Homo sapiens: one gene and its partners. The protein of the gene in region 6 purifies or fractionates together with the protein of the main gene of each other region. This does not show direct contact. Each region holds a gene or a part of one and is shown on either strand. Other genes may lie near its edges.

Region 1 (4,418 bases), on a different chromosome or scaffold from region 6:
CTCCCCCGCTCGCTCTGAAGTCTGTCCAGCGTGCTCCGCATGCTACCCAGGTAGGCCTCAAAGAGGGGCTCCAGGTTGTTCCTGGTGACACCCAAGTTCTGGCCCTGCTCCTGCAGCAGTGCCCACTTGGTCTCCAGCACCTTATTCTGTTGCTCCAGGAACCGCACCTGAGCCAGAGCAGAAAGGGTGGGCTGATGTCACCCTCCGGTCACCAGAGGAGCCAAGGATGGGGTCCATTGCCACCTCCCCTCCAAGGCCAGGGCAACATAGGGACGCTGCAGCCGCACCTACACTTTGCTGTGGGGAGGCACTCCTTAGGGGAATAGACTGCTGGAAACGACCGTCCAATCTGATGGAAAGAACTCTACCAAGTTAATAAGCACAAAAGCCCAGCTCAGTAGCAGTACCAATTTACTAGTTGGTAACCTTGGTCGAATCATTTCTCTCTGAGTCTCCCTCTCTCACTTGTCCTGCATAAACTGGACTAGATCTATGTTTCTGACCCCTAATTCTGCATTAAAATCATCTGTTTAAAATGTAAATCAACTGTTTAAAATCACACACTTTGGGAGCCTGAAGCTGGAGGAGTGCTTGAGCTCAGGAGTTCAAGACCAGCCTAGGCAACATAGCAAGACTGTCTCCACTAAAAATCAAGACAATTAGCCAGGTGTAGTGGCATGCACCAGTAGTCCCAGCTACTCAGGAGGCTGAAGTGGGAGGATCACTTGAGCCCAAGAGATGGAGGCTGCAGTGAGCTATGACTGTACCACTGCACTCCAGTCTGGGAAACAGAGCAAGACCCTGTCTCAAAAAATAATAATAATAAATTAAGAAAATTGGTGAACTGGGTGAAAGAGTATACAGGAGTATGTTGTACTATTCTTGCAACTTTTCTGTAAATTCAACATTTTTTCCCAAAAAAAACTTTTTTTAAAGTACCAATGTCTGAGCCCTTCCTCTATAGACTCAGAAGGAGGCTTACGGTGTGGGTTTAACAGGACCCCCGAGAGTTCTTGGCCCAGCTGGGGTTCCAAGACAATCTCTCAGACCTCCAGCTCCCAAGCTGTGATTCTGCAATCCTGAGAAAGGTTTTGGCTTGTTTGGCCTCTGGGACAGTCCCACAGGAAAACCAAAAGTCACTAGGGGAGAGGGTGAGGAGGCAGGCAAGACGGCTTGCTTCATATTCTGTCATCCAATATCTCCAGGTCCCATCTCCACACTACCTGGGCCTCAGTCACATGCCCTGGGAGCATCATGCAGCAGGTGTGCCTATTGTGAGCAGTAACAACTCTTAGTGCCAAGAACCACAGAGTCCAGGGGCCTGGGTCCCAGTCCCGCCTCTGCCTCCAACTCCTTGTATCATCCTGGGCAAATCACTTGAGCTCTCTAGACCTCAATTTTCTCATCTCAAAAATGGGCACAATATCACCATTTCTGAGTCTTCATAGAAGCACTGTGGGTACCTCAGGAGAAAAGGGATGTGCATGTTCTTCGGAAACACACAAATCACTGAACCAAGGTACATTTGTCTGCCAGACCTTCCCCATCATGACCCGCTGCCTTGGCTCAGGATCGAGGTGGACAATGCCAGCGAAACAGACCAGGAAATCCCAGCACAAGTGTTGCTCCCATCCATCTGGAGGCAAGGGCAAGGTTCAGGGCATGCCTATGGGCAACAGGTCAAATTCCACATTCCCAGAGCTTGGTGACCTGGTGACCACCCTCCTCATTGTCCACCCCAAATTGAGCTTCTTCACTCAGAGTGTAAAAAAAGGAGAAGCGGAAGGGAGCCTACCCCTAGGACCCCACCCACACACAACTGTGTTTTGATCACATCTTGCCCTTAAGCCTCCTCCAAGCCTGAAAGAATGGAACAAACAGGGCTCCATGCTCTTAGCCTTGAACAACTCTTTCAACTCCTGAGCATTGTTTCCCCAGCTGTAAAATGACAAAAGGCAATGCAGGCCACCCCACTAAGAGGAGCTATGAGGACAATCCATTTTTTGATGATGAGGTAAGGCTACTGTGCAATCAATCGTATTAATCATGGTGGTAGGACAGGCTTCAACACGGGCAAGGTGGACTTGGCAAACCGGACTCATGAGTAGACTGGAGACTCCCCCCGCACAGGCACGGTGAAGACCTGAAGGCCGCCTCCAGCCACCCACGTCTCGGCATCCCAGGCTCAGACCGGGAGAGCTCCAGAGCTCTATCAACCACCACCCTAGTACAAGTGGGCTACAGCAGCCCTGGCCCAGCCCACCCTCTATTAGAGGTCCCGCTTCTTCCCCAAGAGCTCCCTTCCTCCTTCCTGCTTGGCCCACCTTGTCGATGAAGGAGGCGAACTTGTTGTTGAGGGTCTTGATCTGCTCCCGCTCCTGAGTGCGCACTCGCTGGATCTCGGGGTCAATCTCCACATGGAGGGGGGTCAGCAGGCTCTGGTTGACAGTGACCTCCTGGATCCCCCCAGGAGGACAAGCAGGCCCAAACGTCTGCCTGCCAGCCCCCTGTCCCATAAATGCCCTGCTGCCAAAGCCAAAGCCCCCCAGAGCCCGCCCCAACAAGGCCCCTCCGGCCACACTGACAGAGATACTCTTGTGGCCCCCCAAGTTATAGAGGCTTCGGCTGCCAAAGCCACCTGTGCCGGGGCCACAGTGGGCCCCGCCACCACTGCCACTGCTCCGAGACACCGTCACTGAGCTGAAGCTGGTGCGGGCCTGGGACCCACTCCCTCCGCTGGCAGAGTTGGAGCTGAAGCCCCCTTTTGTGGAGTATGTTTGCCGAGAGACGGAGGACCTCATAGCTGCAGAGGGGCCGGAGGGCAGGATGAGAGGGCAGGAAGGGAGTGCCGTGAGCTGCTGGGCCACTGTGGGCTTTTTATCTTTTCCCAACTGGGCCGGCTCCCCAGCTCCACAGACACTCCTGCCCCATCGCCCCAAGGGGAGAGGGAGGGGTCCTTAGGGCCACGGGGAGTGCCCTCTCCCCAAGCAGGAGGGAGGGGCCCTCCCGGTTATCACCTGTGCTCCAGAGCTGGGGCTGAGCCGAGACTGTCTGGGGCAGGATGCCACCTTCTCCCCCTGCCCCCAGGCTCTCCTCGGTTGGCACAGGATGATACGGGCTCCCATGGCCACCCCCACCACCCAGTGGCTGGCTTGCTGTCCTCCCACCCAGCCCCAGAGGCCACTGTCAATAGGGCTCTGTTCTACGGGGTTTGTCCCAGGCCCCTGTTGTAAGCCAAGGCTGCAGGGCCTGGGGCTGTACAGGTGGTAGGAGAAGGAGCATTGGGCAATGGGCTGCCAGAGAGAGCATCCAGGCCTGCTCCCATCCCACCCCCAGCCAACGGCCCACCACTCCTCCCAGGTCCAGGGTGTGTGACACAGGTGACAGGGCGAGAGTGGGGATAGCCTGTGCCTCTGCCGTACAGTGGCAGAGCCTTCTGGGAAGTGAGCCTATGCTGGCAAAGTGAATTCAAGGACAGAAAGAGGATCCCTGCCCAATCGTGGGGCCCAGGCCCTTGATCAGGAGGTAGAAAAGGCCTGGGGTCCTCAGGCAGGGCCCAGAAGCCTGGGAGCAAAGGACATTCTTATGGAGGCTGAAGAGAGGGCAGGGGATTTAACCAATACCTGAGATCCCTGAGCCTCTACCCCACAGCAGAGTCCCCACAGAAAGGTTCAGCCACTTTGGAGGGAGCTGGAGGTGGGTCAAGGACACAGACCACCCTGGGTGGAGACAGGCACAGCTCCAAAAAGCAGGTGTTCCAAAAAAGCCCCAGGAGGCCCACGCAGCAGCCCCGTCACTCCCATCTTCCCCTGCCCCACATGCAGGAGCCCATGTTTCTGATTCAGAGGGGCCAGGGGAGCTCCTTAAATCACCTCATATGGTCCCCGCCGCCCACTTCCTATTCACCTCAGTCTGCTGGGACCAAACACAGCCCCAAGCAAAGACAGAGACGTCAACTGTCAGGGCCGAGGGGTGACTGAGGAGGTGACTTTAGACACTGGCCCTCCCCACCCCCTTCTCTCAGCAAGAAGATGGGCTCAAAGTGAACAGAGACTTGCCTGAAAAAAAGGAGCGAGGACAGCATCGCTGTGCTCCCCACCCCCATCAGATGAGCAGGACAACCAGCCAGGCTGTGTCCCCAGGATCCCAACAGAGAGGACATGGGACTGCCACGGAGAAGGCTTGGCCTCCCTCCCATGTTCCCCACAGCCCAGCAAGTGAAGAGACAGCCTGCTCCAGGACCAGAGGGAGCTGTGGGATCTTCTCCTAGGGCCCCTGGGAGGCTGTAAGTGGCTCCCCGTTGCTTGAAGAGGTTGAACCCAGCTCCCACAAGGAATGGGAGTGAGAGCACTTGCAGAACTAGTCCCTTAATAGCCAAGAGGAGATTTTGGAGTTAGGACACTGGGCATTTCAGGGAG
Region 2 (3,979 bases), on a different chromosome or scaffold from region 6:
TCTACAATAATTCGTTTAAGTTATTGGCTTCCAGCTGCATTCATATTGCTGCAAAGGACATGATTTTGCTCCTTTTTTATGGCTGCATAGTATTCCATGGTGTGTATGTACCACATTTTCTTTATCCAATCTGCTGCTGATGGGTACCTACATTGTGTTGTAGGAATCCTTTTCTAAGGTTGCAGCACTGGAGAATTGCTGTAATAAAGACTAGGAATTGAATGAAAATCTGCCCACATGGGCCCTTTCTTCTGTGACACCTCCCCTCACAGTTTTTTATCTTTTATCTTCATCCAACCACTACAATGGCTCCAGGGCAAGCCTATCCTTCAGCTGTTAGTGGCTGGATTGGAAAGATGATCTCAAAATAGGCAAAAGTTCAGTGATCTTGGGTCCCAGAGAGAAGTCAGCAGATACTCATAAATACTATCTAAGGCTTCCTCTTAATCCTCACCCTCCAGAACCACAGAGGGCCCTGGCTTCCCCAGACCAACACCTGTGCTCCCTCATCCTGCACCACTGGGAATATGGAGGTGCAGTTTCACAATAAAAACTCTCCACTTTTTATGTAATTTATTTTCCTAAATATGGAGATTGGGTACCCTAAAAAGTTGAATATTAAAATTCAAAAAGAAAATTTAATTTAGCCATTATCTGTAAGCTCTTGCTCTACACTACCCATCATGTCAGATACTGGGGACAAAAACAGACCATCACATGTCCTTGAAATACTCATAGGTTTCCCTCTGGGAGGAGGTTGCACCATGGTTAGTCAAAAAAACTACTGTACGCTTCTCAGTAAACATTTTCCCCCAGAGCTGCTGAGCAGTGGCAAATGTCTAATGCTGTTTCACAAGATGTGCTGTGGCCCAATCAAGAATGAATTCTTTCAAAAAGAGAATTTTATGGTCCACAGGGAATGGTCCTTCCCTGTGCAACACAGAAAATGTAGGTAGTGGCAAAGAGCCACAGAAGGCAGATAGCCAGGCAGAGAATGAGCCTTGGGTTAGAGTCTACAGGACCAAGCAGAAAAGACAGAAGTCGTGGCCAGGGTGATAAGGAAAACAGGCTGACAGCATTTAACAGAATTGACAGGAGAGAACAAACCATAGAGTTGAGAGTTTCATCTAATAAAAGGCAGGTAGTTTTGTTGAATAGCTCTTTCTGCTTTTTGAAATTACCCTGTTCATTATTTGCTTATTATTTTTTATTCCCCATGCACCTACACACACACACAGACCTACTTACTATAGGGAGGGTTTTGAGAATACAATGAAGAACGCTGTCAGTGTTGTTCACCACTATATCCCCAGTTCATTAAACAATGTCTGGCACTGTTTGAAAACATTAAATGAATGAATTTACTATTTATGCTAAGTTACTGGGTAGGTCTTACCATTCCTAGTTAACATTTGAGGCCTCCAGGCATTAAATAACATGCCCAAGGCCACAGTCTAGCAAGCGGTGAAAACATTTGAACCCTGTTCTGATTCCACAGCCTATAATAATAACTATTACATCCACTAAAACAGTTAATGTGTAGTAAACACTATGATCCACGTTTCAGAGTTAGGCTTCAAACTTTCTCAACAAATCCTTTTGTTTTCATAAATCCTGTCAAATATAGATACCTTGGTGGACTCCATTCAATCCTTAAAAAGATAAGATTTTTGAACTCAGCAGGGTCAAAAGAAGTTAAGCAGTGTATTACAGAATGTTGTCTTGTGGAAGCTTCTTTTGTTTTTTCTGGAATACCGATAAAGAAAGTGGGCTAGGAAGATTATAAAGGTGAGTTGGGGCCTTAAACAATGGGCAATCATATACCAGGCAGAGAAGGGGGAATGAGAGAAATCTCAGGCAGAGAGAAGAAAATAAAGGGATCAATGTACATGGCTGTGGCCTAGTCAGGGAATATGGCATGTTGGGAGTTTGGAAAGGTGACAAAAGGCTTAGAATGCTACAAAGATAGAAAGGGTATTTTATACCTTACTAAAGAATTCTTCCATTTTTTTCATTCTTTCAGACACTTTATTTCTGCAGAGAAGGATAACATCAAATTTAGAATATAAATCAGGAGAGAACACAAAAGATACAGATTTTATATATTTTAGAACATTTGACAGAAATGTAGTTGGAATTCCATTGTTTTTCTTATACCATAATCTTTCTGTTGTGATGCCCTAAAATTCACCCTGTGATTTCATATCATGTCTTCTTAATATTGTGCCAGAAACCATAACATGTCTGACAATTAAAATATTAAGGAAATGGGCTGGCCATGGTAGCTCATGCCTGTAATCTTAGCACTTTCAGAGGCAGAGGCAGGCAGATCACTAGAGGCCAGGAATTCAAGACCAGCCTGACCAAAATGGCAAAATCCCATCTCTACTAGAAAATACAAAAGTTAACCAGGTGTGGTGGCATGTGCCTGTAATCTCAGCTGCTTGGGAGGCTGAGGCACAAGAATCGCTTGAATCCAGGAAGCAGAGGCTGCAGTGAGCCGAGATCGCACCACTGCACTCCAGCCTTGGTGATAGAGCAAGATTCTGTCTCCAGAAAAAAAAAAAAAAAGCAATATTAATGAAATAAAAATGAAATGAACCCTCTTTGTTAACAGAGGAATTACTTAATGGAGTGAAATCCTGATTCCACTCAATGCAATAAACATTTGCTAAGCTACTATTCTTCTATGTGACTATTTTTTCTGTGATTGTAAATGTAAAAACTTAAAGACAGAATTAAAAAAATCATAGAATGTAAGAGTTAGAATGGCCCTTAAATCAGGTTACCAGTCCACCCACTCCTCTAACATTGGGTGATCATTCAGCATACACTTCATACCCATGGGCACAGAGGTTCCTCAAGAAGTTCACCAGCTAGTAAATGGGATACCACATTTTAAAGGGTTTTTTAACATGAACTTTCATATTCTGCAACATATGACCTTGTTAAAAGCTCTGTCCAGGATGCAGGCAAGATATCTGCATTTTAAGAATAAGAAAGTAAAGCTCCAGTAAGGCTCAAACTTGACAAGGATTACACGGTCAATTTACACCAAGGACGGAACTCTCTTGTAGCTTGCTGCTTCCCTTCTTGCTCTTGATAATTGTCCTAGTCCAACTGGGCTGCTATGACAAAAATACTATTGGCTTACTTAAAAAATAAGCATTGATTTCTTGCAGTTCCAGACACTGGAAGTCCTAGATCGAAGTGCTAGGAGATTTACTGTCTAGTGAGGACCCACTTTCCGGTTCCATGGACCACTGTTTTCTCACTGTGTCCTCACATGGTGGAAGGGGCAAGGAAGGTCTTCCAGGTCACTTTTATACAAGCACTAATCCCATTCATGAAGGCTCCACAGGAAGAAAGAAGATGGGGGTAGAAGGAGGAAGACAAGAGGGAGAAGGAGGTGCGTAAAGAGAAAATAACTGAAGACTTTTAAAAGGAAATAGGATTACTAGACAAGTATAAGAGAATTAGTAATGGTTAAATACTGTATCTCCTTGTTCTCACACTACATTCTACTCTCAGTCTATACCCTTATACTACTGAGTCCTAGGAGAACTTAATGTGAATTTTCTCTAATTTTTAACTTTAATTTTTCACTAATTTCATAGTGAGGAGATTTGGAACATACAGAAAAGAAAGGTCATACCAGAAAAAAAAATGTAGCGCTTTCACTTCCAATTGGTTCTTAATTTTGTCTCAGGACTTGCCTTGAATTCTTTTCTCTTCCCTGGATAATTCTGGAACACTTAGTAATGGTTAGCTATTATATTCCTTATACCTATTTCTACATTCTACTCTTATTTCTACATTCTTTCCATCTAAAATCTAAAGAAACTTAAACAGAAATTTGTTCTCTTCTAAATGCTCAATTCATTACAAATGCTTGGAAACACGGAGATGAGATCAAATCAGATGAAAATTTATAGAGATTTTGCTTCAAGCTGAGTATTTGGCTTAGATACAAACTACT
Region 3 (3,979 bases), on a different chromosome or scaffold from region 6:
TCTCTCTCTTCATCTCAGTCTCTTAGGGCAGTTTGACATAAGAAAGCTGTAAAAGTCCCCAAACAGTTTGGAAGGAGTTACCACTATGGAGACAGCAGGAGGTTTAACTGCTTTTTTTCATCCATAGCTTCACTAGCATTCCTTGAAGACAGACTCTTTCCCATCATCTGGGCTCCAGAGCAGGGCGGTTATCAATATTTTTGAGTGACCCCAAGGAAAACAAATGAGGAAACTGAGCAATTACTTAACACTGCTGGTAAGATCTCTCCTGCACCTGGTCTTTCGACAGCACTTCAACCTCTCTAATCTGGGAAAGACCACAGGCAGAGGGCAGCCTTTCATAACGGTACTTCTGACCCTCCTGGAAAAAGCACAAAGATTATCTACAAAGAAGCTGACAGAAGACTACTCATTAGCAGAAATGGAAACTTGCAAAGTTTCTAAGAGTGTCAAAAGAAAATAATTAGTTTGGCTGGGCGCGGTGGCTCATGCCTGTAATCCCAGCACTTTGGGAAGCTGAGGCGGTGGATCACCTGAGGTCAGGAGTTCAAGACCAGCCTGGCCAACATGGTGAAACCCTTCTCTACTAAAAATACAAAAATTAGCCAGGCGTGGTATGGGCAGGCAGCTGTAATCCCAGCTACTCAGGAGACTGAGGTGGGAGAATGGCTTAAACCTTGGAGGCAGAGGTTGCAGTGAGCCAAGATTGTGCCACTGCACTCCAGCCTGGGCAAATGAGCAAGACTCTGTCAAAAAAAAAAAAAAAAAAAAAAAAAAAAAAAGAGAGAGAGAGAAAATAGTTTAGCTAGTTTATGCTTTTCTGTGTGTACAGGTAGTTTCTTTTTTCCTCAAATAAAAAATACATCTGTGAGAAGATTGTTAAGTTGCAATAAAAGTTCCACACCAACTTTGTGAGTTTTCTTTTTCCTTTTCTTTATTTTTTTTGAGACAGTTTCACTCTTGTTGCCCAGACTGGAGTGCAATGGCACAATCTCAGCTCACCGCAACCTCAGCCTTCTGGATTCAAGTGATTCTCCTGCCTTAGCCTCCTGAGTAGCTGGGATTACAGGCATGCACCACCATGCTTGGCTAATTTTTTTTGTATTTTTAGTAGAGACGGGGTTTCACCATGTTGGCCACGCTGGTCTCAAACTCCTGACCTCAGGTGATCTGCCTGCCTCGGCCTCTCAAAGCACTGGGATTACAGGCGTAAGCCACCATGCCAGGCCATACACCAACTTTGAAATAAGATGACCAATCAGGTTACTAACTAGGAATACGGCCTGAGGCAAGGAAATTAATTTTTCTGTACTAGATTTTGAAAACAAATTGAGATAATCAAATTAAGCCTAAGTTTCCTGCTCTATAAAATGGCTCTAATACTCACCACACACCTCACAGAATAGTCCCATGATAACTAAATTACAGTGGATATAAAAGTGCTTTGCAGACTTAGAAGATTACACACAGAAATAAACTAATCCTGGAGCAAGGCTGCACCTGTCCTTTTGTCAAAAGACCAGAGGCACCTTTTCTAGTAACTACTGCACTGCTCTCTGTGCAAAAAATTGCTACCTGCCTGGGGTGAGAGTTCTATAGGGCTGAAGGCTTTTTAGAATTTTTTTTTTTTTTTTTTTTTTTGAGATGGAGTCTCATTCTGTCGCCCAGGCTGAAGTGCAGTGGCGTGATCTCTGGCTCCCGTGTTCAAGTGATTCTCATGCCTCAGCCTCCTGAGTAGCTGGGATTATAGGCACACGCCACCATGCTTGGCTAATTTTTGTATTTTCAGTAGAGACAGAGTTTCATCATGTTGTCCAGGCTGGTCTCAAACTCCTGACATCTGGTGATACGCCTACCTCGGCCTCCCAGATTTTTAGAATTTTTAAAATTTAGTTCCCCTATTTCTGTTGGGACGGAGAGGAGGAATGAAAAGAGGCCCTTCAGAAAGGTCACTCTTTCCCCCAGGCTGGAGTATAGTGGCATGTTAATAGCTCACTGTAGCCTTCAATTCCTGGGCTCAAGTGATACTTCCACCTCAGCCTCCTGAGTAGCCAGGATTACAGGCGCACATCACCAAGCCCAGCTAATTAAAAAAAAAAAAATTTTTTTTTGTAGAGATGGGGTCTTGCTCTGTTGCCCAGGCTGGCCTCGAGTGATCCTGGGCTCAAGTGATCCTCCATTTTCAGCCTCCCAAAGTGCTGGGATTACAGGTATGCACCACTGCACCCAGACAGAAAAGATTACTTTTAAAAGAATCAATCCAAAGGTAAATTCAGAGAGCATAGACCAAGCCAGTATGTTCCTAAAGCAAACGAGGAACACCTCAACTTGTTACCAGGGCTGTCCTTAACTCCTTTTCTTAACTTCCTCAAGAGTCTCCTCTATCTTACTGAGGATCACTTGAGCAAGAAAATAGGCAGCACAAACAGCCCTTCATAGCCCTTGCACCCTACATGGGCAAACAGGAAGCTGAACCCAGCACTGAAGATGTAACTTTGCCCTTTCTTTCACAAAAAAAGTGGGCAAAGAAAACATGTTAATAAGTTCAAACTATTGTTCTACAGAGTTAACCTTGTTCAAGCTATTCCATGGTTTAGAGTCCCACAGATTCCCTACTAGAGAGGCCCCATGTCCCAGAGACTACATCAGCCCAGCAGGAGACCTTTTAATTGAGGGTGGTTGTTTGCTGTGGTGATTTTTTTTTAAATTTAATTTAATTAATTTTTTTTTTTGAGACGGAGTCCCGCTATGTTACCCAGGCCGGAGTGCAGTGGTGCGATCTCAGCTCACTGCAAGCTCCACCTCCAAGGTTCAACACCATTCTCCTGCCTCAGGCTCCCAAGTAGCTGGGACTACAGGCACCCGCCACCACGCCTGGCTAATTTTTTGTATTTTAGTAGAGACAGGGTTTCACTGTGTTAGCCAGGATGGTCTCGATCTCCTGACCTCGTGATCTGCCCGCCTCGGCCTCCCAAAGTGCTGGGATTACAGGCGTGAGCCACCGCGCCCGGCCAGCTAATTTTATCTTTTAAACTTTTCTTATAGAGACGGGGGTCTTGCTATGTTGCCCCGGCTGGCTTTGAACTCCTGGGCTCAAGCGATCTTCCTACCTCAGTCTCCCACAGTGCTGAGATTACCGGCATGAGCCACTGCAACCAGCTGACTTTCTGTTTTGTTTTGTTTTGAGACCGAGTCTTGCTCTGTTGCCCAGGCTGAGTGCAGTGGCTTGATCTTGGCTCACTGCAACCTCCGCCTCCCAGGTTCAAGCGATTCTCCTGCCTCAGCCTCGCGAGTAGCCAGGACTACACGCACCCGCCACCATGCCCAGCTAATTTTTGTAGTTTTTTAGTAGAGACAGGGTTTCACCACGTTGGCCAGGCTGGTCTCAAACTCCTGACCTCAAATGATCCACTTGCCTCAGCCTCCCAAAGTGCTGGGATTACAGGTATGAGCCACAGTGCCCGGAAGATTTTATGTTTTTTTGTTTGTTTGTTTGTTTTTGAGAAGGAGTCTCACACTGTCACCCAGGCTGGAGTGCAATGGCACAATCTTAGCTCATTGCAACCTCCCTCTCCCAGGTTCACACTATTCTCCTGCCTCAGCCTCCTGAGTAGCTAAGATTACAGGTGCACACCAACACACCCGGCTAATTTTTTGTATTTTTAGTAGAGATGGGGTTTCACTATGTTGGCCAGACTGGTCTCGAACTTCTGACCTCGTGATCCACCACCTCGGCCTCCCAAAGTGCTGGGATTACAGGCGTGAGCCACCGCGCTCAGCCTGATAGCCACTTTCTAGCACCGTTCGGTGTCAGGTTCAGTCATGTTTTTTGCTAAACCTGAAGCTTAAAAAAAAAAAGTTATCAGAGGAATTTTAAAGGCAGCAATTCATTGGTAAGATTGCTCAAAAGGGTAGAGTAGAAAAAATTCAACTTAGGACAACTTTATCTAATGATGTAGAGTACAGAGCACTTAATTTG
Region 4 (4,432 bases), on a different chromosome or scaffold from region 6:
ACTCTAACCATATTTTCCCATCACTATGTTTTTAATTTTGTAAAATCTTTTACTTTATACCACACTACAGTAGTAAGTAATCTTGTAAGTGGTTTCTACTGTTGATTTTTCTCTCCATTAAAACAAAACAAAAGCACAAATATAAGGAAAGGGTATATAAATATGGTCTACTGATTATGCTGGCTGTATTGTTTTGAACTCCAAATCAGGGTAAAGGGTCTAGAAGGAATTGTTGTCTTTGATTTGTGGATTAGCATACAACAAACCTTATAGAGGTATAGCATTAAGCTACATTGAGCTGTAGACCTGGTTCACATTTTACAAAAGGAACAGAATGACATGGAAGCAGGACGGAGCTGTAAGGTGTCTCAGGCAGAGGTGAAGATGACAGTCATACAAGTGAATCCTATTGATGCCGATTTCCCGTAACTTCCATCTGACAACAGGCCACTCAGCTAAACTCAAAAAGAATATGTTTTCAGAAAAGGAGATTTGGGGGAATTTTATTTTTCATAAGAGAGATAATAAAAACCGGTGTTTTAAAAATCAGAAAACTTTGAAGAGAATCCCTGCTACTGGAAGAAATTTTATAAGGAAAGAAAGAGGCCCTCTAAATTAGAAGGGACTTCTATCCTCTGAGATCTGTGTGGGGACCCTGGAGGGGCTCTCAGCTCTCCAGAATCACACAGCATGACCCTAGAGAATGAAATGTTAACATGTGAGGACAAATGAAGGGGCTTTGACAAAGTCATCCTGAAAGTTGGACCACCCTGGGAAATGGCACTGCCGGGGCTAGGGCTCAGATGGACCAACTCTGGTGTGTGCCCCATTATCGAGAAGCACCATGAGTCAATTTTGGAAAATAGCAGACCACTGCTGGCTCCCATGCTCCACCGTCTGCTCTCCTGCCAGGCCACCCACCTGCCGGGCCACTCGCCCACTCTGGGCCTCAGTCCTGCACTTCAGTTTATCCCGCTCCTTCCCTCGGCAGGCACTCTTGGTGGCCTCACTCTCGGCCGCCTCTCCAGTCCAGTCTCCCTGAGGACTGTGCCAGGGCACTGGTTGGCCACCCTCAGCCACACAAGCTGCCTGGGTCCACAACTGCTATGGGGAGGTCTCTGCAGAGATGGGCCAGGAGCCAGGACAGAGCAGGCAGCAGCACAGTCCCCCAACGGGTGAGGAGCCAGCAGCCGGTGTCAGGCAGTTGGGGCCTTTATCGCCTGGGAGACCACTCAAGATCCCAGCACTCCAGGCCGATCCACCAGCTTCCCTCAGCCTCATTCCTGCACTGGTTCCCTTTAACTGGCAAAGGTTGCGCACCCACCAAGACAACAGGCAACCATTGCTCTGTGAATTGTCTAAGGTCTCCATAAGGGCTACATCTACACTTTAAAAGTGTCCTAAAAATCATAGAGAAAGAGGTAAACTTTTTGTATGTGGTCAGATTGCTGATAGGACTCAAAAACATAAAAAGTAAAAGGACCATAATACATTTACTGTCTGGTTTCTATATACAGTATTTTGAAATCCTGTACAACCAAAAGAAAACAAACAACCTCCCCACTTAACCATCAGTAGCAGCAGCCAAGCACCTGGGGTTAGGGTCTTACAAAATTCGGGTACCATTTTCACTCTTCCCAGAATTCGTGTTGGAATTTTCACTCTGAAGCTGATATTACAAATAAAACTACATTAAGAATAATTTCCAGCGTTTAGTTTACAGCGACGTGTCTTTGTTGATTACAGAGCCTTCTGAAAACAGTTAATTTAAATGTCTTGTGATCAGAGGCTCAGCCGACATTGGGAATTAAGTGCCAAGAGACCCAAATCTGAAGGCCACACATAGTGCCCTGCAACTTTCTCCGCTTGATTAAAATTCTTTGAGAAAGATAATTGCTACTTCTTAAAGTAAAACGGATGAGGAAATTCTCTAAGTGCGGTGTCAGCTGGAGTTGGGGGCTATGGGTAAAAGCAAAAATCAAGAGAAGCCAAAGGTGGGGAAAGTTAAGGCAATGGCTCTCGGCCTGGCCTGTGCCTCTAAAGTGCCCCAGCACCGGCCCACGACAGACGCGCACGCCAGACAGCCTGGGGGTGTCCTCCATCGGGTCGCGCTCCCGGACCCGGGTCTCTCGGCCCTCCTCAGCCCCAGCTCAGAGGCCTCGGAGGCCTCACCATCTTCTTTTATTCCTTTCTGCCCCGGGCAGGTAATCTCGCCGTTCTGCCAACGCTGTAGCCTCCCAGCCCACAGAGCGAGGAGGCAGAGAACCGTGCGCTTCTGCGGCCTCGCGACCCACCGCTTCCCAAAGGCCCAGGTCTGCGACCTTCCGGAGCGCGCGCCTTGTGTGTAAACACCGGGACCTCTGGGCTCCGGGGAGGTTTCGTCAGTAAGCGAGCACCTTCCTACTCCTCCTCGTTCTGCTGCTGAGCCGGGTATAAACTAAGCACGGAAGGCGCCCGCTGCGCTTTGCTCGGAGGACCCGCTTCCCCAGTCTTCCAACTGCAGCTCCGCCATCTGCCTCCCGGACTCTCTCTTGGCGCTCTCGGACCCTCCGACCCTCTCAAAGCCAGACTCGTCCACCCTGGAAATCATCGCAGGGGTTTTTGGGGAGGGAGCTCCCCAAAACCAGCGCGCTCCGAGTCAACGCGGCGCGCACCTCCACTCGCGATCAAAGCGGGCAGCGCAGGGACACGTCGGGGCCTCGCAGGGATGCGGGCGGCCCGGCCCCGCGCGGGCGCTGGACGGCCTCGGTTTCCCGGCTTCGAGGCTCACAGCGCCGAGCCCCGCCGCCTGCGATCCCGCCCGAGACGTCCCGCGAAAGGTGCGGTTTCTGGAGAGCCGCGCCCGGGCAGGGAGGCTCGGGTCTCGGCGGCGCCCGGCGGACCCCCGGCCCGCTGCTCCCTCGCCCCCGCCGCCCCGAGTCTGGCTGCCCAGCGCAGGGGCCCGCGGCCGTCGGGTGGGAGGGGCGCCCGCCTCACCTTGGTGAACTTGACCTCCAGGTTGCGGATGGGGCGCGGCAGGGCCGGCGGCTTCCTGTCCGGCTGCCCGTTTTCCACGGCCCCGTTAGCGGTGGCCATGGCTCCTCCGCGCTCCCTGGCCCGAGGCGCCCTAGTCTGCGGCGCACCGGCTCGGCCCGGACACTGCGCAGCCCGCTCCCGGGGTGGCAGCTCCCCGCCGCTTTATGCAGCGCCCCACGCCTCCCGCCCGAGGGGGCCGCCTAATTGGCTGCGGGACCGGAGGAAGGGAGGGCGGGCTGCGGGAGGGAGGAGAGGGGAGGGCGGCCGGCCCGCCTCACCCCGCCCCGCCCGCCGCCCCTGCGGGAGCCCGAGCGCCGGCGGCTCCACCCGCGTGCCGCGGACCGTCCCGGCGCCCGCGCCGCGCGCTCTCTCGCCCCGGAGGCTGCCTGTGGACGAGCTCCCCGAGGAGCCGCCGGGCCCCGGAAGTCGCAGGGCTGGGACACCCGACCCGGCAGGGAGCTGAGCCGCGGGGCCACGGCGCCCCGCTGCCTCCCCGAAGTCGGGCGGGCTCCCCGCGCGGCACATGCAGCCCACTCCCAGCCGCCGCACGGCGCGCTCGCCCGACTTCGGCCGGCTCGCGGCGCTCGGGAATGCGCGCTCTCCGCCGGGCCCTGCGCCGCGCCCGGGTCGGGGCTCCTGGCGGGGCCGCCCCGCGTCGCTGCGCACGTGCCCTGCTCTTGGGTCCAGCCGCCCGATCCCCGCTAGCAGGACAGACGCCCGCTGCGCCCCACCCTGCCCGAGCGCGGACAGCCGGCGGGCGCACCCCGGCCCAGCCGGCCTGGAGTCTCCCCGGGGCCCTGGGGCTTCGCCCGCGGTGGGGCAGAAGGCGAAAGCAAAGCGCCGGACCCGGGCGGCTCTCCGCCGAGGAGCCCTGGCGCCGCTGGGCCTCTGACCTTCGCAGGCGCACACCGCCTTCCATCCCAGAGCCCGGGGGGCAATTGATCTGATTTTTTAAATGCATAAATTATACCTCGATTAAAAAATGATAATTAAAAAAAAGCACATGAGACCTTTGCTGCTAATCGTTTTAAGAGTTTAAATTCTTGTCGCGCATTACTTCCCAGGAGGGGGAGGTAAGTCTAGCTCCTCTCCTTTTGCGATTTGGGAAACGCTCCATCAACTCCCAGGACTTGACCCAGGCCCCATCTGAGACACGGAAGCGGCTTCTGATGCATGCCATTCCTCAGGTCGCTGGAACAAAGACCGGAGGCACGGACTCCTGACAAAAGCTGTGCTTTAATCCTCAGATAGGCTCAGCCCCTTCAGTTCATCTCTTTCTGTAGGTAACCCCAAGTAATCAACAATGGGGAGGGGTCTCCTTATTTTCCTGTTTTGAGGCCTCCGTGTCCATCTCTCTGTCCCCTGGTGTCCTTCTGGATAGAGCTGGATAGAGGGGTAAGTTTTGAAGCTTTTGGAA
Region 5 (2,885 bases), on a different chromosome or scaffold from region 6:
GGGGCCTGGAGGCTTATTTTTTTTTGAAATGGAGTCTCTGTCGCCCAGGCTGGAGTGCGGTGGTGCAATCATGGCTCACTGCAGCCTCAGCCTCCTCCTACCTGGAAGCCTGGGTGGGGAGCAAGCCCAGGGAGGGCGGCAGCAGGGCTGTGGTCAGACTAACATGGTCTACCATCTGGGACGCTGGGGAACCTGATTAACCCCTCTGTTTTCTCATCTATCAATGGCCACAACAGTGGCACCTTCACTAGCTTGTTGGGAAGAATAAATGAGATAGCTCGTGAAGTACCTAGAAGGGGAGGAGGCAGGGGGCGTGCACTTACCCCAGCGCCCAGCAAGCAGCCAGCAAGTGTGAGTCACTACAAGAGTGGCCAGGCTGCCTGCTGCAGACACTAGCTTTGTACCAGGAGCTTGCTGTGTGCCCCTCCTCACCCCCCCCATCCTGTCTCTTTGCAGTTATGAATACTACGTCGATGACCCTCCCCGCATAGTCCTGGACAAGCTGGAACGCAGGGGCTTCCGTGTGCTGAGCATGACGGGGGTGGGCCAGACGCTGGTGTGGTGTCTGCACAAGGAGTGACCTTCTCATGCTGATTTGCAGACGGGGCACCCCTGTGGAGGGGCTGCTGTGGGCCCTGACCTCCAAGCTCCTGCCTCACCGTCTGCCTTGCTCCTCTCTTCCCAAATCATCACCGCCATGGGCCCAGCCCCAAAGGGCAGTGAATGGCCTTCTCTGAAACCCTGCGTCAAGCAGTGGGAGAGGGCAGTGCCCGGTGCCCTGGTGCTCCCAGCTGCCCTCCTGCTTCGGGCCTGGGCCGAGGGCCTTGTGTAGGCCATGTTCCTCGGGCAGCTGCCCCGGGCCGGAGCTGGGCACTCCAGCGGCCCTGGCGCGTGGCTCCTGCATAGCTAGCCCAAGCCAATAAAGGGCTGTGATGAGTGGCTGCGCCTGTGCTCTGCTTGTGCACGGACTCTGGGACTCTCACCCTGCGGAGCGTTTCCCTGGGGGTCTGCCCACTTCCTGGGAGGGGCGCCAGGCCTGGGTGGAGCGCTCTGCGGCAGAGCCCAGCACCTTATACCTATGTATGGGATAGAGGTAAAATCTTAAAAAAAAAAAAAATTTATTGGTGACGTTGAAGAAAAGGGCTGAGGGGTGGATGGCTGGAGCTGGGGCTACGTAGGCGGCCCCTCCTGGTCTTCCTGCTGCATCCGTGCGATCAGCTGTTGCCGCTCGGCCGCCTGGCGCATGCGCATCATGACGAGGCTCTCGTAGTCCCTCTCTGACAGCACTGAGCCCTGTCGGACAGGGCAGGGACAGGGAGGGGTCAGGGACAGCAGGGCACAGCCTCACAGACTCCGAGTACGGTGCCGAGGCAGTGCTGCGTTCTAAGAGTCTCGGAGGGAGGACGGCAGAGGAAGGGAAGGAACCCGGAGCATCCTTTTGGAATCCTGGCTCGCCTGTGTCCCCCAGAACACGCCACCTTTGGCCTCCAGGCCGGCTTCTACCCAGCCAGCTCCCCCTCCCTTTCCCCAGGCCGCGTCAGCTCCGGTCCATCTGTTTCTCAGGAATCACCTGCGGGCCCTCTAAGCCAGGCCCTCGTCTCCCTTCATTTCCTCTGGGCCCTTTACCCTTCACCCCTTTCCCTCTACCCCGTAGCTTCTGCCTCTTAGGTTCCCAAGGAAGGGAAGTTGTCTGAGGAGCAGGGATGCACTTGGCTCTGCTGGGCACTGACCCTGGCACTCTCTATGCCCGGTGCCCTGTGGTCTGGCTCTTGCTGAGGATGCAGAAGGGAGCCCTACCCGAGGCAGCCCGGAATGCCCCACCCTCGAAGGGGAAAAAGGCAAGCATGAGGCCAGCGTGCCTCTAAAACTACACACCAGGGCTCCTGGAGGGCAGGGCCCATAATCAAAAGAATAATAAACAACCATCTGAATGGGCCAAGGCTGTAGGGTGGAGAAGCAGCTCTACAGCGGGACCTAAGCTGCCAACCCACGCCCTGATAAGGTCTGCGGTGGGAATTAAACCTTTTCCTCCCTCGGTGCCGCTTAGGCTGTGTGATGATCATGTGGTCCCAACAGCTTCTCAGAGAAGTGTGAAGCACACCTGAGTTGGCACAGAAGTGAGCTAGGCCAGGGATTGCAAGATGCGGTGGCCTGCCCGTAGCAGAGAGCTGTGGGGCCCTGATCCGCGGTACCCCGCATGGGGACGCTGTCACAGAGCAAGGCAGGAGGAAAATGTGGTGGTCAGTGACCCGGGGAATAGGAAGGGAGCAGCTAGGGTTGAGATGCCAGGCCCTGGCCAGCAGGTTTGGAGTAAGGGGTGTAGAGAAACAGGAAGTGTTACTCAGCCTGGGTTCCCCTGTTCCTCCCGATGGCTGCACCCCTCCCCTCTCCCCGGCTGCAGCAGTCCCAGCTAGGCCGGACTGCTAAGCCTGGCCCAGAGCACGGCTGACAATTCACGGCAGCCTCCCTGGCCCAGCCTCCTGCAAGAGAAGGAGGACCCCAGAGGAAGCCCGGTAGCCAGAGGGGAAGGGCTGGAGCACAGCCAGGTAGGAGGCAACACGGCCCGGCCTTCAGCAGCCGCTCTCCTGGCAGGAGCCCTCTAGGGTAAAACAAGGGAGGACAAGGAAATAGCAGCCAGGCTGATGGCAGGCCAAGAGGAGGCCACATCTCCCATCCCCAGGTTAATGCTGCTCTGCCAAGAAAACTTGGAGCCACCCTTGGCGGGCCCCCAGCCCAACCCTGGGCAGCAGAGCCCGCCCATCACAGGCATGGCGCTGCTCCCCATTAACACACCCTCTGCCCCCCTTCCTGTTCCTGCTCGTGAGGGCCTGACAGCGGGGCTGAGTCACCCATACCAGCTACAGGTCTCTTCCTTCCCCAACAAT
Region 6 (3,979 bases):
AGCCACAGATCCTATCCTAGCGTTGTCACGTACTGGCTGGCTGTGCAGTCGGAAGCACTAGCTCTCTTTGCACCATCTGTAAAATCATTTCCACGATACATTTTTTACATGTTACCAGTTCTAATAGTGATATAATTTCAAATTGAGAGACATTGTCATGGAATAAGACTTCAGCTTTAAAAAAATGTCTCTCCATCTCTACTTCCTTTTTTTTTTCTCCAGGCAGAGTCTCACTCTGTTGCCCAGGCTGGAGTGCAGTGGCATGATCTTGGGTCACTGCAACCTCCACCTCCTGGGTTCAAGAGATTCTCCTGCCTCAGCCTCCTGAGTAGCTGGGATTACAGGCGCCTGCCACCACGCCTGGCTAAATTTTTGTATTTTTAGTAGAGATGGGGTGTCACCATGTTGGCTAGGCTGGTTTCAAACTCCTGACCTCAAGTAATCTGCCCGCCTCATCCTCCCAAAGTGCTAGGATTACGGACATGAGCCACCATGCCCAGCCTCCACCTCAACTTCTAAGACATATTTAAGGCTAATATTTTTTCCTTTAAAACTGAACTTTGAGCTGTATTGGCTGGACATGCTCTGAGGGTCCTTCCAGAGCTAACATCTGTGGCTGCAGAATGGAAAGACCCTTTCCTTTCATGCTTGCTCACATGTGTGCACTTGCTCACAATAATCTAAATGATGGGAAACTATTGTTCATGCCAACATTTTTGAAAATGGGAAAAATAAGTAACAGATATTCAGATGTAATTCTTCTTCTAGACATTTTTTTAAAAGCCAGACTAGTATGAAAATTTATGCAAATTTGAATATAAAAAAGAAAAACAACATCTTTAAATTTTTTCTCTTTCATTCTGTGGAAATAATTTATTTTAAAACTTCATGATATTTATCTGTCCATTTAAAACTGTGTTAATAGCTTATAAAACAATGGGTATGGTATGGCTGGAGCCAGCTTCTGCAGGCCCTCTGCCATGCCAGGCCAGGTGCCACGCCTCCAGGTGCAAGACCATGGGGTGGTCCAAGGGTCCCAGGGGAGAGGCCTGGGCAATGAAGAAGTGGTGGCACCGGTGGAGGCGCTCAGGACAGCTGCTGTTTACCGACCAGTAAAGGTACATTTCACTGTTTGAACAACTGGTACGATGGTACGAGCGTGAACCACCTGAAGACCAGCTCTACACTCTGCAACTCAGTGTTAGAACAAAGAATGCTTTACAGAAAGGAAAGTTGGAAAATACTTACCAAGCTAGTAATTTCACTATGCAAGTCTTGATAGGCCATGGAATGTTTCTCTTCTGGGTCAAATGTTTCTGATACTGTCACTGAAATCTTCCCAGGGAATACCTTTCCTGAAAGTTAAGCAGAATCTTTCTGTACTATTTGATGAAAAGAGGGTCATTTCCATTTTGTTTTAAAACATAGATTATTTTTTAGAATTCCCAACATTATATAACGACACTACAGGAAATCTGGAAATATTTTAAAAGTTACCCATCATCCTGCCCAACCTAGCACAACCATTTTAATTTTGGTATATTTCTTTCCATTTACAGTTTACATTGTTGTAATTCCAAGTTTATGCCATATTTTTTTTCTTCTTATTATATAATAGGTATTTTCCAAATCGTTGCCTAGTCTTTTTTTTTTTTTTTTTTTTTGAGAGAGAGAGACAGATAGGGTCTTGCTCTATCACCCAGGCTGGAGTGCAGTGGCACAACTGGGTCACTGCAGGCTTGAACTCCTGGGCTCAAGTGATCCTCCTGCCTTGGCCTCCCAAAGTGCTGGGATTACAGGTGTGAGCTCCTATGCCTGGTCTCATAACCATCATTTTTAAAGGTTGCATAATATTCTGTGAAGTACATGTCCCCTTCCTTGATGTAATCATTTTTTGTTATTGGACTTAGTGCTTTTAATTATTTAAAAGGAAAAGAAAAAGTTGCAATGAACATCTTCACACACAAACTGTTCTTCTGTATTTGGGGTCACTTACTTAGAGTAAATCCCCAGGAGTGAGATTATTAGTGCTAAAAATATGAGCATTTGGGGGCCTTTTGGTATATCCCTAACCCCAGTGGGCAATGCAATGCATTCATTTCTTATAGAATTGGCTGCTCTGGAAAATGAAGATATTTCTCATTCATAAAACAGAAAAAAAAAAAAAACAGAACTCAGACAGTCAGCCCTCAGACCTTCACTGCACCCTGGTGATCTAATCAAAACATCATTATGCCACAAGTGTATAAATGTACTCCTGAAATCCATTTTTAGAGCTGAAGGGCTCTTATGTCTCTAAGAGGGGGATCTGATGTTATGGAGCAAACAAATCTTGTGACACAGAACTGAAGATCAGGCTCCCAGGGTTGCTGGACTGTGTGGTCTTTGATAGATCACCTTGTTCTGCCTCAGTGTCCCTAGGTAACAGCACTTTTCTCTACTTTGCTGGCCTTTGTTGCCTCTGCATTTTCTTTATCTCTCATATTTTGGAATCTCCTTTTGCCATCATTTTGAGTTTTCGATTCCACTTTTGGTGTGAGATACAGAGCTCAGCCATGGCTCATCCCTTGTAACTCACCTTTCTTACATGTAGAAGAGTTGTAGTAATACCCTTCTAAACACAGGCAAAAACTTGTATTATGCAGCTTAACACATAACGAATTATCTGCACAGGGATCATCTTGGCAAGGATTGCTGGGACCTTAGATGGAGTAGAAAGAGATTAGAAATCCAGAGAAATGACAATAAATAACAACTGGAAACGTATTTTTCCATCTTCATGCCTCCCCCCTGGGCCCTTTCCATTCCTTGCTTGTGTTACTCCACAGCACACTTTTGGAAGAGTTAAAAACAAATATTTGCTTGCTTAGGTCTCTAGAGAGTTTGTTTCTGAAATTCTAGAGCCAAGTATAATACTTGTCAATAGTAAAGATCAGAGATTAGTGTACAAGGGCTTGCCCAAAGAAAGAGAGATTGCAGTCTTCTGACTCCAAGGAGTCAGGAATCTTCAGATCTCAAAGTCCCTCCAGAACCTTGAAGCATGGTCCTCTAACACTAGGTGGGGCTCCCCAAAACATTCTAGATAAAACATCTTATTTTTAGAAAGGTATGAATAATTGTCATATAGGAAGAAACAGCCAAGAAGCTCCAAAAGAAACTAGATGTCACATTCTGTTAGGCATACCTAGGAGACATAGCCATAAAAACAGGAATGGGATAGTAAAGGAGAGAAATGTGGATTAACTCAGTGAAAATTCTAAGAGGCCATGAGAAGACATTCCAGCCTCTGGCTTTCTAAGTGGATCATCTGAATAAATGGTGAAAATAACACTGCAATGGGTTCTACACTGTGGGCTGAGACTCCCAGGCCAGGCAGGGTGTAGCATCTTTCTTTCTCTGGGGAACTGATGAGATCTGAGGAGGAGAGTTAGCTCAGTGGTCCAGTGGTGATCTGGGCTATGAGTTTTCTTCACTTCTGTCAAGTGGAATGATTCTGAGCTGTGATGTCAGAATAGCTTATGTGTTTGATAACCTTCAGAGCTGTCTTGAGAGTCTTACAAACCTATATGTAGAAACCACTGATTTCTTTAAAAGCTGTATGTAAGGTACAATGTGTATAACATGCTCTCTTTTGTGAATAAAAGAAGGGAAGGATTATACACAAGCAAATATTTGCTTATATTTGCATAGGTAATTTCAGGAGGGAGATACAAGGAATTGGGCACAGAAGTTGCCTCTGGGGAAGGAAACTGGGGGTCTGGGTCCTGGGGGTTTAGGATGAGAGGGAGATTTATTTTTTATTGTACATGATTTTGCCCTGTTTGAGCTGTTTTTTCCATAATTATAGGCCTAATTTACTTTTATTAAAAAATAAAAAGTAAAATAATGCTGGTGAGAATATGGGGCAATGGGAACTCTCATTCATTGGTGGGAATGCAAAATGACACAGCCACTTTGAGAGGAAAGTTTGGTGGTTTCT
Region 7 (3,979 bases), on a different chromosome or scaffold from region 6:
TGTGAGATCTGAACCTCTGTGCATTTTTAGTTATATTCTTAGGGCAAAAAGTCAGGCATTTTTTAAAGGCACTTCATACGTATCACCCTCTGGAGGTCTCTAAGGGGGAGTGAATGGCTGTCATTCTGATTTGGCTGGAGGACGTACAGTCCAGTCTGAAGGGAAGAATTTGGGCCAGACGGCCCCTCCAGACCATTCCTTGGAATGCTAAGATCTGCTGGTGCCACCACTTTTGAACAAGTACCTTAGATTCTTTGTCTGATAATAAGGAACAACTTTCCAACTTTTAGGGTAATAAAATACTGCACTGGGTAGGCAAAATAGAGTGTCATCTTCACCTGAGAAATCTTAAGGAGCCAACAGACCGCCATTTGGCTAAACAGGGATCTCCCTCGAAGCAGAGCTTGGCACCGAGGATCCCTCATGCTCAGCGTTCTGTGAAAAGTCTAATCAGCAAACAACAACCCGCTGCTACCCTCATTCTCTAATCACAGCGAAACCTCAGCCAGGGCCACTGCGGATGTCACGTACGCTGCTGGTAGGTTTGGCTTATGCGCCGGATCTCCTCAGGGGTCCGGGAGGCCAGGATCTCAATTAGGCAGCCCTCATCAGTGCCGGCTCCCTAAACAAGAAACCAGAGGACAGGGCTATATGAGCCAGTTTACAAAGCTGAGGCCCAGACACAGAAGGAATACATCTGTCATGAATCTGCAGAGAATAAAGACAATCCACTGCGTTCTAACAACAGGGTTTGTTCACTTTTATTGTCCCACCCGAAACCCAAAGTGTTTGCCGTAACAATTATGAGTAATAACAAACATTTCTAGGCTGTTTATTATGTGTTCGTTACTGTGCCCGGGTAGGTATGGTTTCTGCCCTCTGGGGACTTAATTTTTCCTTGACCTCTTCTGCTCTCTTCCTCTGAAGGGCAGAATTTTCTGGCAAAGACTTTGTCACCTCTTTGCTTTCCCAGAGCCTGGCCCAGAACCTTCCACAAGTCTGAGTATTTATTGACATGGTTGAGGAGGATAATTGTACTCCTCGACTTATGATGAGGAGTACAATACACTGAAAATTTTTAAGTAGAACCATCCTAAGGTGGGGACCATTTATATTTGCATTACATACTTGGTCATTAAAATTTGGCAGACCAGGCTAGGGCACAGTGGGTACGTCATCTAGGGAAGCCAGGAACTCTTTTGCCAGAAGTAAGCCTATAGTAGACCTGGAGGCCCCTAAAGTGTCAGTCATAAAGTTACATATCTCAAAAGTAGTTAGCTGTCTAGAGATAGCTAAAAGTCTCTAGAGCTGTACTAAAAGCGACAATTATAATCACTCCCCATTGAGCCACAGGAAGGAGCAAATGATTCCCTAACTTTTTGGAAAAGAACTTTTAAATTATAATTGGTATAATGTAAAGTAATGATGTTTTCAAGTTGTCGTAAATGAAGGAAAATCTCCTATACTTTACACCTGCTACTCTCAGAAGGCCTTGGTCATAGTTTCTTTCTTTTTTAAAAAAATTTAACTTTTACTTTAAGTGCAGGGGTACATGTGCAGGTTTGTTATATAGATAAACTTGTGTCATGGGGGTTTGTTGTACAGATTATTTCATTACCCAGGTATTAAGCCTAGTACCCATTAGTTATTTTTCCTGATCCTCTCCCTCCTCCCACCCTCCATCCTCCAACAGGCCCCAGTGTGTGTTGTTCCCCTCTATGTGTCCATGTGTTTTCATCATTTAGCTCCCACTTGTAAGTGAAAACATATGGTATTTGATTTTCTGTTCCTGCCTTAGTTTGCTAAGGACAATGACCTCCAGCTCCATCCATGTTCCTCCAGAGGACATGATCTTGTTCCTTTTTACAGCTATTCCATGGTGTACATGTACCACATTTTCTTTATCCAGTCTACCATTGATGGGCGTTTAGGTTGCTTCCATGTCTTTCTTATTGGGTGACAGTTTCTTAAGAAAGCACATCAGCGTTTGCACCAACAGCACCAAGAGCACGAGAGGAAGAGCACAGACCTTCATGGCCCTTCGCAGCTCTTGCACGTCATACAGCACCGTGGGCGTCATCATCCCCACAATCACCTGCTCGAAGTTGCCACTCAGTTCTGACTTCAGGTCGTCTATCAAGTCCTGCAATGCAAGAAAGTAGCTCCGCTTAACTGCTATAGCAAATTAGACCAGCTACTCTCCAGGTGTGGTCCAGGGATGTCTGGGGTCTCCAAGACCCTTTCAAGGGGCCTGCAAGTCAAAACTATCCTCAGAATAACACTCAGATGTTATTTGCCTTTTCACTGTCATTCTTCCACAAGCATACAGTGGGGTTTTCCTAAGGCTATTTGACATTGTCTGTGCATCAACAACTGTCTGTTCAAATACTCCCCCCATTTTCAAGTACATATCTGTACAAGCCAGATTTTCTTCATATACCCCAACCAAAACCACATATCATAACAAATTGAAGTAGAAATAGATATGAGAAGCCATCTGTCTTCCATTAAGCCAGACATTAAAGAGATCTGCAAAATGTAAAACAATGCCAATCTTCTCACTAAATGTTTTTTCGTTTTGGGATATATAGCTATTTTTCATTAAAATGTTATTTACAGTAACATACAATATACTTATTATTTTTACTAAGTTAACAAATATCTATTTTTAAATGCCCTCAGTTTTAGTTTCTAATAGGGCAAATATCAAAAGATATAACCCACAAAACCAAAAGTCCTAAAAAATTTAAGAGGTAAAGGAACTTTGAGGTGAATATGTTTGTAGACACCGATGTAAATGTATTTGCCTACTTAACAATATGTCTTGAATATACTTCCAAGTCAATATTCACTGATAACCTTTTTAGCAGCTGTGGAGATTTCTATAGATAGGTGCAACATAATTTCTTTTTTTTTTTTTTTTAGATGGAGTCTTGCTCTGTTGCCTAGGCTGGAGCGCAGTGGCACGATCTTGACTCACTGCAGACTCCGCCTCCTGGATTCAAGCGATTCTCCTGCCTCAGTCTCCCAAGTAGCTGGGATTACAGGTGCCCACCACCATGCCCAGCTAATTTTTTTGTATTTTTAGTAGAGACGGGGTTTCACCATGTTGGTCAGGCTGGTCTCGAACTCCTGACCTCAAGTGATCCACTCGCCTCGGCCTCCCAAAGTGCTAGGATTACAGGTGTGAGCCACCACACCCAGCCTAATTTCTTTAACTAGTCACCTGTTTCTATTTTTCTACTGTTATATACATAAGGCATTTAGTTGTATCTTTGTGATCATTCATGACTATTTCTTAAGGCTCAATTCCTGAGATATAGTTTCCAAATATAATTATTTGGAAAATGGACCAAATTCTAAAGATGTTTATTCACATTTCCTCCTGGAATGGGTCAGAGAGTTTAAGAACTTGTTTAAGATCAATTGACGAAGAAGGAGCTGAATCGCTATTCTTTTTTTTTTTTTTTTTTTTTTTTTTGAGATGGAGTCTGTCTCTGTTGCCCAGGCTGGAGTGAAGTGGCATGATCTTGGCTCACTGCAACCTCCACCTCCTGGTTCAAGCAATTCTCCTGCCTCAACCTACAAAGTAGCTAGGATTACAGGTGCTCAGCACCATGCCCGGCTAATTTTTGTATTTTTTAAGGAGAGATGGGGTTTCACCATGTTGGCCAGGTTGGTCTCAAACTCCTGGCCTCAAGTGATCCACCCACCTCGGTCTCCCAAAGTGCTGGGATTACAGGTGTGACCCACCACACCTGGCCTCAAGAACATCTTTAAACAAGACAAAGGATCGATCTTTTAAAACACAAGGTCACTTCGGGAACCTAGATCAGGAAGAGGCCCTGCTTCCTGTTGCTGCGAAGTCAGCCAGACAGAGCAGGAAAGACTGTGGCCTACCCTGCCGATGGTGCTCTTGTAGGCTGTCCTGATCTCCTGGCGCTGGGCGGTGTTGCGGTAGGCAAGGACGCTAATAATG

Evidence for each region.
Region 1: the proteins of MUC13 (region 6) and KRT79 purify together in Homo sapiens (affinity purification with mass spectrometry, with the first as the bait; one study listed by BioGRID). This does not show direct contact.
Region 2: the proteins of MUC13 (region 6) and SLC25A24 purify together in Homo sapiens (affinity purification with mass spectrometry, with the first as the bait; one study listed by BioGRID). This does not show direct contact.
Region 3: the proteins of MUC13 (region 6) and CS purify together in Homo sapiens (affinity purification with mass spectrometry, with the first as the bait; one study listed by BioGRID). This does not show direct contact.
Region 4: the proteins of MUC13 (region 6) and ALDH1A3 purify together in Homo sapiens (affinity purification with mass spectrometry, with the first as the bait; one study listed by BioGRID). This does not show direct contact.
Region 5: the proteins of MUC13 (region 6) and DNAJC17 purify together in Homo sapiens (affinity purification with mass spectrometry, with the first as the bait; one study listed by BioGRID). This does not show direct contact.
Region 7: the proteins of MUC13 (region 6) and ANXA4 purify together in Homo sapiens (affinity purification with mass spectrometry, with the first as the bait; one study listed by BioGRID). This does not show direct contact.

What each region holds. Positions count from the first base shown.
Region 1 is NC_000012.12:52,831,460-52,835,877, forward strand, and holds the start of KRT79 (keratin, type II cytoskeletal 79), read right to left. Parts: upstream 2,853-4,418; 5' UTR 2,802-2,852; coding exon 2,325-2,801; intron 168-2,324; coding exon 1-167.
Region 2 is NC_000001.11:108,193,447-108,197,425, forward strand, and holds part of SLC25A24 (mitochondrial adenyl nucleotide antiporter SLC25A24), read right to left. Parts: intron 1-3,979. UniProt on the Homo sapiens protein: Electroneutral antiporter that mediates the transport of adenyl nucleotides through the inner mitochondrial membrane. Originally identified as an ATP-magnesium/inorganic phosphate antiporter, it also acts as a broad specificity adenyl nucleotide antiporter.
Region 3 is NC_000012.12:56,286,729-56,290,707, forward strand, and holds part of CS (citrate synthase, mitochondrial precursor), read right to left. Parts: intron 1-3,979. UniProt on the Homo sapiens protein: Key enzyme of the Krebs tricarboxylic acid cycle which catalyzes the synthesis of citrate from acetyl coenzyme A and oxaloacetate.
Region 4 is NC_000015.10:100,878,551-100,882,982, reverse strand, and holds the start of ALDH1A3 (retinaldehyde dehydrogenase 3), read right to left. Parts: upstream 3,153-4,432; 5' UTR 3,076-3,152; coding exon 2,977-3,075; intron 1-2,976. Other genes in the region: collagen alpha-1(I) chain-like, read left to right, coding at 3,180-3,962. UniProt on the Homo sapiens protein: Catalyzes the NAD-dependent oxidation of aldehyde substrates, such as all-trans-retinal and all-trans-13,14-dihydroretinal, to their corresponding carboxylic acids, all-trans-retinoate and all-trans-13,14-dihydroretinoate, respectively.
Region 5 is NC_000015.10:40,766,770-40,769,654, forward strand, and holds part of DNAJC17 (dnaJ homolog subfamily C member 17), read right to left. Parts: intron 1,294-2,885; coding exon 1,171-1,293; 3' UTR 581-1,170; coding exon of another isoform or gene 457-580; 3' UTR 1-456. Other genes in the region: GCHFR (GTP cyclohydrolase 1 feedback regulatory protein), read left to right, coding at 457-580. UniProt on the Homo sapiens protein: May negatively affect PAX8-induced thyroglobulin/TG transcription.
Region 6 is NC_000003.12:124,920,949-124,924,927, forward strand, and holds part of MUC13 (mucin-13 precursor), read right to left. Parts: intron 2,702-3,979; coding exon 2,579-2,701; intron 1,356-2,578; coding exon 1,249-1,355; intron 1-1,248. UniProt on the Homo sapiens protein: Epithelial and hemopoietic transmembrane mucin that may play a role in cell signaling.
Region 7 is NC_000002.12:69,804,549-69,808,527, reverse strand, and holds part of ANXA4 (annexin A4), read right to left. Parts: coding exon 3,901-3,979; intron 2,144-3,900; coding exon 2,030-2,143; intron 623-2,029; coding exon 532-622; intron 1-531. UniProt on the Homo sapiens protein: Calcium/phospholipid-binding protein which promotes membrane fusion and is involved in exocytosis.